Linked DNA regions of Homo sapiens. The protein of the gene in region 1 purifies or fractionates together with the protein of each later gene. This does not show direct contact. Each region holds a gene or a part of one and is shown on either strand. Other genes may lie near its edges.

Evidence for each region.
Region 2: the proteins of INCENP (region 1) and GPALPP1 purify together in Homo sapiens (co-immunoprecipitation; one large-scale study listed by IntAct). This does not show direct contact.

Annotation. Positions count from the first base shown.
Region 1 is NC_000011.10:62,150,690-62,153,846, forward strand, and holds the end of INCENP (inner centromere protein), read left to right. Parts: intron 1-1,072; coding exon 1,073-1,287; 3' UTR 1,288-2,480; downstream 2,481-3,157. UniProt on the Homo sapiens protein: Component of the chromosomal passenger complex (CPC), a complex that acts as a key regulator of mitosis.
Region 2 is NC_000013.11:45,016,793-45,020,619, forward strand, and holds part of GPALPP1 (GPALPP motifs-containing protein 1), read left to right. Parts: intron 1-3,537; coding exon 3,538-3,636; intron 3,637-3,827.

The DNA.
Region 1 (3,157 bases):
ATCTGACCTGGAGTTTACAGGCCCCAGCATTAAACCAGAATGTGGGTGAGCGTGACTGCAATGTCTCAGGCCTGAGTGCAAGGCCAGCTTGAGTGAGCAGGGTAGGTGCTAGAAGTGGGTGCTGCCAGAGTGGATGGGGCCCGTGGGTACCATGGGTGCCTTGCAGTGGTTGCTGAGCCGGAAGTCAGGGAGGGGTGCAGACGCCCCAGAGGGAAGGGCCTGGAATCCCATAGCTGGTAGGCACACTACAGAAACTTGTTTTTGTGAGTTTCACCTCATCTGAACCCTACAGTAACTGGCATGTGCTTTAAGCCTCTTAACTACTAGTGTCAAGTCATTTGGGAGATGGCAGTGAGCAGGAGCCAGCTCGCTTGCAAAGCCATCTAATCGGAGGTGACTTTGAACAGCTTACTTAAATAGTTTCCTCATCCGTGAAAGGGGGGTGAAGACAAGACCCAGCTGAGGAGTTCTGTTGAGAGTGACATGAGTGAGCTCACGGCTGGCCCTTAGAGCCGCACCTGGTGCTGAGCAAGTGCTGGTGCATGTCTGGCCTCCTGATCCCCTGGGTCTTCCTCAGCCCCGTTGTCAGGACTGTGCCTTCCCACATCCACTGCCCAGAGGCCCCCTCAGCACTGCACCAGGGCCTGTGGGGTCTGTGAGAAGCAGCTGGCCAAGGTGGTCAAGGATGGCATCCTATGCTTAAGCTCTGGAACTGGGCTTGTCTTCAAACACAGGCTCTGCCATTATTAGCTGTATGCCTTTGGGCAAATCTGCTGAATGGGAGAATACAGAACCTGCCTCCCAGGTGGTGGTCGGGACAGGTTCAAGGAGTGCCTGGCTCATGCGAGCTCTCAAGGACTTTGTAAGGTTAAGCTGCCAGAGGAAGGTTGGAAGGATGTGACACAAGGGCGTTCTCTGGGTTTGATGGTGGTACAGGCAGGGGCAGGGCTGAAGAGGGTGACAGAGCTCTCTGTAGGGAGGTTGGAGAGGGTGACAGGGCTCTGTGGTGGGCAAGGGATGGGGAGGTTCATGGAGAGCCCCAAGGCAGTGTCTGGTCTGTGGTCTCCTGCAGGCACCCCGCTCAGCCAGGCTATCATTCACCAGTACTACCACCCACCGAACCTTCTGGAGCTCTTTGGAACCATTCTCCCACTGGACTTGGAGGATATCTTCAAGAAGAGCAAGCCCCGCTATCACAAGCGCACCAGCTCTGCTGTCTGGAACTCACCGCCCCTGCAGGGCGCCAGGGTCCCCAGCAGCCTGGCCTACAGCCTGAAGAAGCACTGAGGCTGGCCTGCGGCCTTCTTGGCAGCCTCGCCTCCTGTCCATGTCTATCTGTCTGTCTGTCGGTCTCTGTCTTGGTCTGTTGCCCTCCTTCTTGGCATGCCATTGTGGAGGGCTTGGCCAGGTGTATATAAACGTCCTCTGTGCTGGGTGTTTCTGCTGCAGGTGGCAGGTGGCCCCAGGCCTGTTTGGAGGATGGGCTGGGTGGGTGGGTGGGGAAGAAATGGGCCCAGCCCCACATGGCCTGCAGACAGTGCTCTGTAAATAGTTGTTTTAATTTAGCTGAATGTTAGCATTTTAGTCTTTGGCATTTTAGCGTTTGGGAGGTAGATTAATAAAGTATATTCCTTCAAGCCTGCTGTTGATACCATGAAGACTGGGCGCCTCAGTCCCAGCCCTGTAGCTGTGTGTCTTGGGCCACCAGTGGCCTGCAGGACGAAGGTACTGTTCCATCACCTGCGGTGTGCCTCAGGATCACCAGGTGCAGGCCCCCACCCTCGGAGATGCTGCTGCAGTGAGTGGTTCCACTGCCTGGATAACCCTTGAGGAACACGTCAGTTACTGTCACGATGGGGCAGGTGGAGCTCCTTCCTATTTTTTGGGGTGCTCCCTGTTTGTAAAGGGGAGTTTGTTCATTGGGAAAGACCTGGGTCTTGACACGGCCCTGCCACTTAGTCCCCTACCCTCTCCATTCCCCAGGCTCCACCCGTGCTGCTCAGGTGCAAATGGACTTGAGAGCATCTATGTGCTGGTGAAGCATGAGGTCTGAGTAGAAAAGGGGTATCCCTTGAGACCACCTTGGGACCAGTGCTTGCAAGCAGCGAGATATTTCCCCAGCAAAACCAGGCAGCTGCTAATTAAATGCTTAGAACCAATGAAAGCTGGCTGTGGTCCTGCCTGTGAGCTGCCTACTGCTGCCTTCTGAATGCATATATCTGCTACTGTAGCCCCGGGTTGTCAAACTATGGCCTGTGGGCCAAATCCAGCCACAGTCGGTTCTTTAAAGTTTTATCGAAACACAAGCAATGGAAATGCCCATTTCCATTGTTGTCTCCAGTTGCTCTGCTCCGAGGGCAGTGTTAAGTTGTGCAGCAGAGGCCCCTCCATGCAAAGCTGAATATGTTTACTATTTGAACTTTTTCAGAAGTTCTGCTTAAGGACAAAATAAAGCCTAAATCCAAGAACACTTTTAAAAATGAGGAAATAGTGAACACAATAGACGGAAGTCTGGAAGTTTCTACCCATGCCAAGAAAAGCATTTTATGTTTTGTTCACATATGTTGTGCAATTCAAATTTTTTTCCCTATATTCTCTGACTAGACACTTGTACTGAGTCAATTGGCGAGTGTGTCTGTCTAAAAGCACAATATCAAAATATCACTTAAAGCATCTTTACATAGTGTGTTTAAGAAAAAGTTGTTATTCAGCAGAAAGGTAATTCCAATTGGTCTGCATATTTATCAGCACTTGGTATTGTCTGTTTCTTATTTTAGCCATTCTGATAGGTGTGTACTGATATCTAATCATGGCTTTAATTTGAATTTCCCTAATGGCTGATGGTGAACATCTTTTCATGTGCATTTCTGTCATCTGTATGTCTTTGGTGAAGAGTCTTCAAATCTTTTGTTCATCTTAAAATTGGATTGTTATATTACCATTGGGTTTAAGAATCTACATATTATGGATACAAATATGTTGTCAGATATGTGTTTTGCAGCATTTTCTCCCAGTCTGTAGCTTGTCTTTAAAAAAAAAATTTTTTTTTTTTTTTTTTTTTTTTTTTAGAGATGGGATCTTGCTACGTTGGCCAGGCTGGTCTCGAACTCCTGGCCTGAAGTGATCCTTCTGCCTTGGCCTCCCAAAATGCTGAGAT
Region 2 (3,827 bases), on another chromosome or scaffold:
GCACACAACTAATTTTTTTTATTTTTTATTTTTGTAAAGACAAGGCCTTGCTATGTTGTTCAGGCTAGTCTCAAACTCCTGGGCTCAAGCAATCCTCCCAAAGTGCTGGGATTACAGGCGTGAGCCGCTGTGCGCAGCCTCTCTCTAAAGGTTTTAATTTCTGTAAGACATCCCATTCAATTCTCAAATGCTTGACTAATTGTCACCTTATGATTATAAATTCATCAGTTCTGACTAAAGCAGTTCCACACTTAGTTCATTCCACTAGCTCTGTTTGTATTACTCATCAGTACCTAGAATTGTCAGGATTTCTGTTTTCAATCTGTAATGATCAATTTTCCTGTTTTGTCAGGAATTGTATTTGGTTTCAGGTGATAGAAAGAGTCAAGAGCTCCTTAAGGACTTTCCATTTTAGTGGATAATTGCCTGTGAAATAAACAGTGGTACCCTTAAAGTGTGGAGGGCATGTTTCAGTCTCCACACTTGAGCACTCTGCCTGCATATTGGGCAACATTATACATAATTTCTTTTTTGTCCTAAGATTAAAGAGAATCTGAGAGTTATAATAGGAAGGTGAGGTGAACCAACACATATAGGGGCAGGAGAGGCAGCAAAGGATGTGGATCCAAGAGAGCCACAAAAACCTTGAAAGGGTGGTGTTGGAATGCCTATTATTTCTTAGCTGGTTTTGAAATAATAATTATTTATTGGAGTTTTTATAATTTGGCCTTTAAGATTGTCTCCAAAAAGACAATTAATTCCCTTGCTTACATGCCTTTTTATTTGTGTCCATATTTATTTGTTCTTTTTTATATCCTGTTTCTCATTGGAGATGAATAGATGTCTAGCTTACAGCCAGATATGTAGGGAGTCTTCCTTGGAGGAAAATATCATGGAATAATGGAACATATGGAAACCAGGCTATATTGTTTGAACTTAAGAGATTTTAATCCCTATGACTGAGTTCTTTAGACCTGGTCATTCTTTTCTGTGCTGAAATGTTTTGTTTAGTATTTGCAGTGGACTCATAAAGGGATTAATAAGTCTTAAATTTTATATAATACTACATTACAGAATATAGTACCACAGACATATATTTATGTCACAAACTATATAGTATCACAGAGCTATTCATTTTCTGTTGTCTTTGATCCCGTGTAAAGTTCATGACTAATTTTTATAACAGATCTTAGCCATATTTCCTTCTTGATAGGTTCCCTCCATTCCATCCTACTTCTTATATTTGATTTTCCAGCATACCTCTCATACCTCTACTGTTCTCACATTAATTTAGCCAATATGGCCTAAAAGAAGATTGCTGTTGTCTGGGCGTGGTGGCTCACGCCTGTAATCCTAACACTTTGGGAGGCTGAGGTGGGCGGATCACAAGGTCAGGAGATCAAGACCATCCTGGCTAACATGGTGAAACCCTGTCTCTACTAAAAATACAAAAAATTAGCCAGGCGTGGTGGCGGGCGCCTGTAGTCGCAGCTACTCGGGAGGCTGAGACAGGAGAATGGCGTGAACCCAGGAGGCAGAGCTTGCAGTGAGCCGAGATTGTGCCACTGCACTCCAGCCTGGGTAACAGAGCGAGACTCTGTCTAAAAAAAAAAAAAAAAGATTGCTCTTTAGAAAGTAATGAAAATGTTTTACATACATTAATTGAATGAGATCAGTTAAGTCCTCACTTTCCAGTCTTGACGATATCTACTACCTCTTAATATTAAATGGTTAGGTTTTTATCTCCATTGTACCATAACATCACTTTTCTTTTTTTATAAGTAAAACATCTATTTTCTGGGAAAATGTAGAAATGAGCTATTTCTATGTTTTTAACTTACTTTATTAAATACAGTGTTGTTTTAGTCCATGAGGCCTCCTAAGCAAATAAAAACAATATAAGAATATGCTTAGAGACCAGTGGTTTTCAGTAGTTTTTATATGGGCCTTCCCCATTCCAATTTGGGAGCATATGCTCTAGAATATTCCTGTAACATTTTTTTGAATTAAAATGTGTTAGACTAGGCACTTCATGTGTGTGTGCTAATATAAATGATAGTTTTGTTTCAAATTCCAGTTGTTTCTTGCTGATATATATAAATATATATACATATAAATATATACATATAAATGTATAAATATATACATATAAATATATATACATATAAATATATATACATATAAATATATATACATATAAATATATATACATATAAATATATATACACATATAAATATATACATAGAAATATATAAATATAAATATATACATATAAATATATACATATAAATATATGTATATATATTTATATATATTTATATGTATATATATTTCTATGTATATATTTATATATATGTATATATATATTTTTTGAGACAGAAGCTTGCTCTGTTGCCCAGGCTGGAGTGCAGTGGCACCATCTCAGTTCAATGCAACCTTTGCCTTCCAGGTTCAAGCAATTCTTGTGCCTCAGCCTCCTGAATAGCTGGGACCACAGACACTCGCCACCACGCCCAGCTAATTTTTTGTATTTTAGTAGAGACAGGGTTTCACCATGTTGCCCAGGGTGGTCTCGAACTCCTGAGCTCAGGCAATCTGCCTGCCTCTGCCTCCCAAAGTGCTAGGATTGCAGGCGTGAGCTACCACGCCCGGCCTCTTGCTGCTATATTTTGTATATTGATCTTGTATCCTGCAACTTTGCTATACTTGCTTAGTAGTTCCAGGAGTTTTTTTAGTAAATTCTTTGGAGTTTGCTACGCAGTTCACAGTTTGCTACACAGTGCTAGGATCTGTGAATAAACACAATTTTTCTTTTTTTTTTTTTTTCTCAAAATGTACACCTTTTATTTCCTTTTCTTTGTTTTTTTTTCCCCCTCCAGGGTGATTTTATTATTTTTGAAAACAGTAATGTAGGATATCTTTTTAAGCCTTATTTTCACTTCTACATCTCACCACTGTTAAGTCAAACTCATCCTGAGTTCAATAAATAGGTTGATTGAGTGGAGTGGGTTTTTTTTTCCTTGTTTTCAAGAAAATCACAGACTAGAGCAGTAACTGATCTCTTATCAAGTATGTTAATATTTTGATTTTTTTTTTTTTTTTTTTTTTTGAGACCGAGTCTCACTCTGTCTCCCAGGCTGGGGTGCAGTGGAACGATTTCGGCTCACTGCAACCTCTGCCTCCCAGATTCAAGCGATTCTCCTGCCTTAGCCTCCCCAGTAGCTGGGATTACAGGCACCCGCCACCATGCCCAGCTTTTATATTTTTAGTAGAGATGAGGTTTCACCATGTTGCCCAGGCTGGTCTCGAACTCGTCACCTCAGGTGATTCACCCGCCTTGGCCTCCCAAAGTGCTAGGATTACAGGCGTGAGTCACTATGCCCGGCAAAGTATGTTAATATTTCTGATCAGAAGGGATTTCACAAACCTGGCTTAGTTGTGTCTCTTGTTACTTAATCTAAGTAAAAATAATATTTATTTTTTGTTTTATCTTAATCTTATGATTCAGTAATGTGTTATCTGTGTTCATTCCTCAGGAAACACAAGAAGCAAGGAAGTCATCCAGTAAGAAAGATGAAGAACATATATTATCAGGAAGAGATAAGAGACTGGCTGAGCAGGTATCTTCATACAATGTAAGTAAGAAAATAAGATATATAGAGCCAGGTGTGATGGCTCTTGCCTATAATCCCAGCTACTTGGGAGGCTGAGGCAGGAGGATCACTTGAGACGAAGAGTTCAAGGCCAGCTTGGGCAACATAGCAAGACCTTGTTTCTAAAAACAATTTTTTTAAATTAGCCAACTGAGTTGGGAGGATCACTTGAA